2 linked regions of the Homo sapiens genome follow. The protein of the gene in region 1 purifies or fractionates together with the protein of each later gene. This does not show direct contact. Each region holds a gene or a part of one and is shown on either strand. Other genes may lie near its edges.

Region 1 (4,400 bases):
GCTTGGGGTGATGGCTACAGGGACACCTCCGACACTGGTGGTCACAATGAGAGGGCTGCCCACTGCTCTCATCTAATAAGCCAGGCGAGTCCAACACTGGGGATAGAGATGTCATTTGAGAGGCCTCCCCCACCCACATCCCTACCCCATCCCTAGTATTCTCTTCTTTCCAGCAGGTTAGACAAGTTCAGCCACATTTTGGCTTTCAAGGCTCAAATGGAAGAAAACAAAAATTCCCCAGGGCACGGTGGCCTGAGATGTCTAGATTCACATCCAGAACCCTTTCTGTGGGAAGGGAACTCCTGGCTTCCTTTCATCAGCACTGGCTCACCAAGTCCTGCGTGGCCAGAACTTGGCAGGTTGCCATGGATACCTGGAAGTGCTGTCCCAGCAGACAGCAGAGGCTTGCTGGGGCCAGGAGAATGTGGGGGCACCTGAACTGCTGGCCAGAAAGGCTAGATAAACAGGCCCCCCTGCCACCCTCATTTTGATCAGACCCCCTCCACCAGTCTCCTAAAACAGGGCTTTCCAAACTTTACCGGGCACAGGAATCCCCCTCTCCGCCGACCTAGTTAAAATGCAGATGCTGGCCGGGCGCGGTGGTTCACGCCTGTAATCCCAGCACTCTGGGAGGCCGAGGCGGGTGGATCACAAGGTCAAGAGATCAAGACCATCCTGGTCAACATGGTGAAACCCCGTCTCTACTAAAAATACAAAAAATTAGCTGGGCATGGTGTAGTCCCAGCTACTCAGGAAGCTGAGGCAGGGGAATCGCTTGAACCCAGAAGGTGGAGGTTGCAGTGAGCCAAGATTGTGCCACTGCACTCCAGCCTGGGCGACAGAGTGAGACTCCATCTCAAAAAAAAAAAAAAAAAAAAAAAAGCAGATGCTGATTCAACAGGTCTGGGGCGGGGGGTAGAAGGCGCTGAGATTCTGTTTTCCTAACGAGCTCTCAGGTACTGCTGCTGGTCCACCGGCCACACTGAGTAGCCAGGGCCTAAACTGAGTCCTGGTGGGTTTCAGAAACCTCAGCCAGATTCTGAAGGTCCCATTCCTGGACCCACTGCCTTAGGCCACCACTACCAGCCCTAACCCCAGTGGGAACCTCTTGCCTTCTTGTAGTGGAAGGACTCTCTCCAGTCCGTTTTTGTATCATTCACCATCAACCACTTCAAAGAAAGGAAATCAGCAGCCGGCATTTTGGGGAAACATTTTAAGCTGTCCTGTCCCTTCTCCAGCTCTCCAAGTTATATAATGCGTCCTTGTTGAAAATGCTGATAATGCTGTTTGGGTGGCAGGAAGCCAATTTCAGGCTACATATTGCTTGGGGCTGGGGCTGGGGTCAGGGAACGGGGCAGGGTCTGGGGAAGGTTTAAGGAGAGAAAGGGGCCAGGCAGATGGAGAGAGGACAGGAGGGCCAGGGTGGTCAAGGCCCGGGGATAAAGCCGATTGGTATGTCAGCAAAATCTGTCACTGGCTTTAGTGATTCGAAAGGCAGACACATTCTTTCATCTCTGTTAATCCTCATGTGATACAGAGGATTTTCCTGCCATTAAATCTGGAGAAAGAAAAATAAGCACTCAAACCTGCACAAGTAACTATTCCTCTTCACCCCTTCCTCCCGTCCCCCCACCCCCACCTTTACTTCTCTCTCAAACCATTTTCAGCATCTGTGGCTGCCTGACTTGGGAGATGGATGGGCTGAGGGAGTGGAGGGGGACCTCAGAGGAGCAGGACCAGGGAGACTCCCAGGACGGTAAGCAACATTTGAGGACCATTCACTAACGCTTCTCTGCAGGGGTTTCCTCTCCATCCATTTCCTTGCTGGGTTGTCAGTGATGCCATCTGAGTTGCTGTCAGGGCTGTAGCCTGACAAAGGGTTTCCTAATAGATCCAAACTGTCCATTTGTGGGGAGCTTCTGATTTTCTGTTGTTACTGGTTTCCCTTAGCCCAACACCAGGGTCATTAAGAAGGAAGGAATGTGAGGAAGAAAGAAAGGCAGGGCATTCAGGAAGAAGTGTGGAGGCATGGGAGGGTTCTCATGGGGCCCTCCTGGGCACTGGGTGACCTGTCCTTTCTCCCCTCAGGTAGGGGTCCCACGGCTGGGTGGTCCTAAGCCACTGGGTGGATGAAAGGCCGAGGGATGTTGGTCCTGCTTCTGCATGGTGAGTTCTCCTGCCGGTGGGTGCAAGGGTTGGGAAGAGGGGTGGAAGCCACAGAGCTTCTGCCCAAAGAGTCTTTAAAGTGGCTTCTGGGACAGCGGTATCTGGACACTTCTGATCAGGTTTCACTGACCCTGTGATCGTGGGGGAGGGGATAGAGAAAGCAAGAAAACAGCAGGTGGTGGGGATTTTTGTTTCCTAAAAACAAAACTCCTGAGCCGAATATATGAAATAGTCCTCTTGGTGATTTTCTTATTCTAATTTCAGATATGAATTCATTGGTGTGATAACCAAAAGCTACAGTGCTACAGTGTTTTTTTGTTTTGTTTTGTTTTTGGAGATGGAGTCTCGCTCTGTCACCCAGGCTGGAGTACAGTGGTGCGACCTCGGCACACTGCAAGCTCCGCCTCCCGGGTTCACGCCATTCTCCTGCCTCAGCCTCCCGAGTAGCTGGGAGTACAGGTGCCCGCCACCACGCCTGGCTAATTTTTTGTATTTTTAGTAGAGACGGGGTTTCACCATGTTAGCCAGGATGGTCTCGATCTCCTGACCTCGTGATCTGCCCGCCTCGGCCTCCCAAAGTGCTGGGATTACAGGCGTGAGCCACCGTACGGTGGTTTTTTCTTTTCTTTTCTTTTCTTTTTTTTTTTTTTTGAGACAGAGTCTCACTCTCGCCCAAGCTGGGGAGCAGTGGCATGGATCTTGGCTCACTGCAACCTCCGCCTCCCGGGTTCAAGTGATTCTCGTGCCTCAGCCTCCTGAGTAGCTGGAACTATAGGCACCTGCCACCACGCCCAGCTAATTTTTTGTATTGTTAGTAAAGACGGGGTTTCGCCATATTGCCCAGGCTGGTCTTGAACTCCTGACCTCAGGTGATCTGCCTGTCTCGGCCTCCCAAAGTGCTGGGATTGCAGGCATGAACCACCGTGCCCAGCCTACAGTGGTTTCTAATCACATTATTTTAAGCTCATTTAGTTAAAAACAAAAGTCCCTTTAAAAAACCACCTTCCTAAAGGAAAAAGAAAAAATGAAAAATGCCTTGGAATTATAGGATTATGGATATTGAAGTTATTTTTCAAAGTTTCTCGCTCTGTTATGTGCACTTTAATATACCAAGAAGACTCGTTATGAAATATTTTCCCTGGCTCTAGCTGTTCCAATCTGACTGAGATAGCCCAAGGAAAAATCCTTTAAATTCTTCAGTAAATGATTCTACACAAAGAATCTGTTTTTTTCTGACCCTCAAGTGAATTTAATTATTTGAGATATGATGATCTATGTAATAGACCTCTGTATGCGATGCTGATAGAGAACATTTTACCAGATCATCTAAAACAGGAGTAATGGAGTTTTCTTCCTCTTTATTCCACCTTTTCAAAAACCGGAACTTGCTCTGTTCAGTCAACCAACAGGCATACACTGTGTGCCTTCAAAACGCTCGAGAGATATTTATGAGGGATATAATAGCATGCTCTTTGTCTTTGAGAAAATTCTTTTATAAGAGATTCAATAAATAAGCAATAAAAAAAATTGGAGCAAGGCACGTGGAACACTGTGATAAATAGGACATGACTTCCTACCTCGAAGAGGTTCTAAAGAACAGAGGTTGATATTTATATAATTACTAACAGTCAACTTCTTGCCATTCCTCCTACCTTGAAAAAAAAATGAAACTTGATTGACTCATTGGGGCACAATGTTTGCTTCCAACAGCCAGTATCATTTTAAACGTGCACCAAAAGCTCTACCGTTCCTCACAGAAAGCAGACCGTATTCATAGCCTGCACACTTCAAAACAGGAACTGTCCCTGCTACAGAAACCCGAAATATATCCAGACTTCTTGTGACAAGTTGGAGAGCTCAGCGGTGACATCATTTGCTAACAATAGATGCACTTAAAATTAATGACCATCTCCACATCCCCTGGCACTTTAATTTAAAACACACTCTAGCAAGCACAGAGAATATTTCTCTGACTGCGAGTCACAAGCAATACGGACAATATGTTCCCGAGAAGCAGGCAGGGATAGTGCTCTACCTCCTTGGCCAGAAAGAAAATGACTAAGTGAGCCTCACAAAACAACACCTTGGAGAAATCAGAAGTGGCTCGCAGCAGGGAAATTTGGGGCAAGAGAAATTCTCCTCTGGACACACAGGGCTCCTGGAAGTGCCCCACTTCTCAGATGCATAAGTGCAAATACCTCCACCTCCTCCCCCCATGTTAACCCCTGGGGTCT
Region 2 (2,537 bases), on another chromosome or scaffold:
AAACCAAACCAGGCTAATCAGAGTGTTGGGTATTTACTGCAAATACCCGCCAAGTCAGTCGATCCTGCTTATCTGGGAATTTACCTACTGTTTCCATTCCTTTCACTGATGACATTTCTTTTTTCTTGAGATGGCGTCTCGCTTTGTCACCCAGGCTGGAGTGGAGTGGCGTGATCTTGGCTCACTGCAACCTCCGCCTCCCGGGTTCAAGCAGTTCTCCTGCCTCAGCCTCCCAAGTAGCTGGGATTATAGGCATGTGCCAACACGCCCAGCTACTTTTTGTATTTTTAGTAGCGATGGGGTTTCATCATGTTGGCCAGGCTCGAACTCTTGACCTCAAGCCCACCTCTGCCTCCCTGCCAAAAGGGGTGGGATTATAGACATGAGCTACTATGCCCAGTCCACTGATGGATGACATTTCTAATAAGTGGCAAATAGTATCATTCTGCTTATTGTGGAAGGGTAGTAACAAACCATCCTATTAAATGGATGTGTTATATTTATTTTGCGTTCTCTTCCCTCAACAGATGGAGCAGCATATTGTATGGGACGTATGAATTCTGACTGTTGGTATGTTTAATGCAATTTTGTGGATTTTTGTTGTCCTATGTAAGATTTAAACTGCCAATTGTCATTTTTAGGAACTATTTTTAATTTTTATTTAGGTACTTATATACTCTGGATTTCCCAGAGAGTCGGGTAATCAGTCAGCCAGATCAAACCTTGGAAATTCTGATGAGTGAGCTTGACCCAGCAGTTATGGACCAGTTCTACATGAAAGATGGTGTTACTGCAAAGGATGTCACTCGTGTAAGCATTTTTAGTAATAATTGTTGCTGGACTCTTCTGCGTGGGGACTAAATTTTATTTTTCATTCTGTAACTTTTAAGTTCAGGGTAACAAGTGCTAGTTTGTTACATAGGTAAACTTGTGTCATGGGGGTTTGTCGTACACAGTATTTCGTCACCCAGGTGTTAAGCCTAGTACCCATTAGTTATTTTTCCTGGTCCTCTCCCTTCTCCCACCCTGGGACTAAATTTTGGACTCAATTGAAGTTTATTTGTCAAACCCTTGTTAAACTCGGTCTTTTTCCCCCCCCAGGAGAGTGGAATTCGTGACCTGATACCAGGTTCTGTCATTGATGCCACAATGTTCAATCCTTGTGGGTATTCGATGAATGGAATGAAATCGGATGTGAGTAGTTATATATTGCTTCAATAATTATTTAAATGTGAATAGTCTTTCCATTCTTAACACTGTGAACTTTTTCTCTCAGGGAACTTATTGGACTATTCACATCACTCCAGAACCAGAATTTTCTTATGTTAGCTTTGAAACAAACTTAAGTCAGACCTCCTATGATGACCTGATCAGGAAAGTTGTAGAAGTCTTCAAGCCAGGAAAATTTGTGACCACCTTGTTTGTTAATCAGGTAATTTTATATTTTATTATTAATCAGGTTATTTGATTTTTAAAATCTTAAAGGAAATGAGACAGTGAGGCCTAAGATGTATTCTGAGATAGCACATATACCAGCCACTCAGATATCCAGAAGTAATATTGTTTGAGGTTACTGGTAGCTGAGAAGCTTTGTTTCATTAGACCTGTGTCAGTCCTTGTTTTCTGTCTAGCCAAACTGATGGGTTCCTCCTGTCTTGCTATTGACAGGCCTCTGGTGGGAGGAACCATAAGATGCCCTGGCCCCTCCAGCACATAAGAAGGCAGCTAAAATAACTCAGATGTCTTAGTTTCATTAAGATAAAAGTCTGTCACTTAACTGTTTTGGTTGAAAATACTTCTCTGGATTGCAAACACTAACGGTTATTTAATTTTTTCCCCCAGAGTTCTAAATGTCGCACAGTGCTTGCTTCGCCCCAGAAGATTGAAGGTTTTAAGCGTCTTGATTGCCAGAGTGCTATGTTCAATGATTACAATTTTGTTTTTACCAGTTTTGCTAAGAAGCAGCAACAACAGCAGAGTTGATTAAGAAAAATGAAGAAAAAACGCAAAAAGAGAACACATGTAGAAGGTGGTGGATGCTTTCTAGATGTCGATGCTGGGGGCAGTGCTTTCCATAACCACCACTGTGTAGTTGCAGAAAGCCCTAGATGTAATGATAGTGTAATCATTTTGAATTGTATGCATTATTATATCAAGGAGTTAGATATCTTGCATGAATGCTCTCTTCTGTGTTTAGGTATTCTCTGCCACTCTTGCTGTGAAATTGAAGTGCATGTAGAAAAAACCTTTTACTATATGAAACTTTACAACACTTGTGAAAGCAACTCAATTTGGTTTATGCACAGTGTAATATTTCTCCAAGTATCATCCAAAATTCCCCACAGACAAGGCTTTCGTCCTCATTAGGTGTTGGCCTCAGCCTAACCCTCTAGGACTGTTCTATTAAATTGCTGCCAGAATTTTACATCCAGTTACCTCCACTTTCTAGAACATATTCTTTACTAATGTTATTGAAACCAATTTCTACTTCATACTGATGTTTTTGGAAACAGCAATTAAAGTTTTTCTTCCATGAG

Evidence for each region.
Region 2: the proteins of NYX (region 1) and AMD1 purify together in Homo sapiens (affinity purification with mass spectrometry, with the first as the bait; one large-scale study listed by BioGRID). This does not show direct contact.

Annotation. Positions count from the first base shown.
Region 1 is NC_000023.11:41,445,761-41,450,160, forward strand, and holds the start of NYX (nyctalopin precursor), read left to right. Parts: upstream 1-1,582; 5' UTR 1,583-1,756; exon of another isoform or gene 1,757-2,088; 5' UTR 2,089-2,144; coding exon 2,145-2,166; intron 2,167-4,400.
Region 2 is NC_000006.12:110,891,634-110,894,170, forward strand, and holds part of AMD1 (S-adenosylmethionine decarboxylase proenzyme), read left to right. Parts: intron 1-527; coding exon 528-570; intron 571-665; coding exon 666-810; intron 811-1,101; coding exon 1,102-1,194; intron 1,195-1,276; coding exon 1,277-1,432; intron 1,433-1,842; coding exon 1,843-1,983; 3' UTR 1,984-2,537.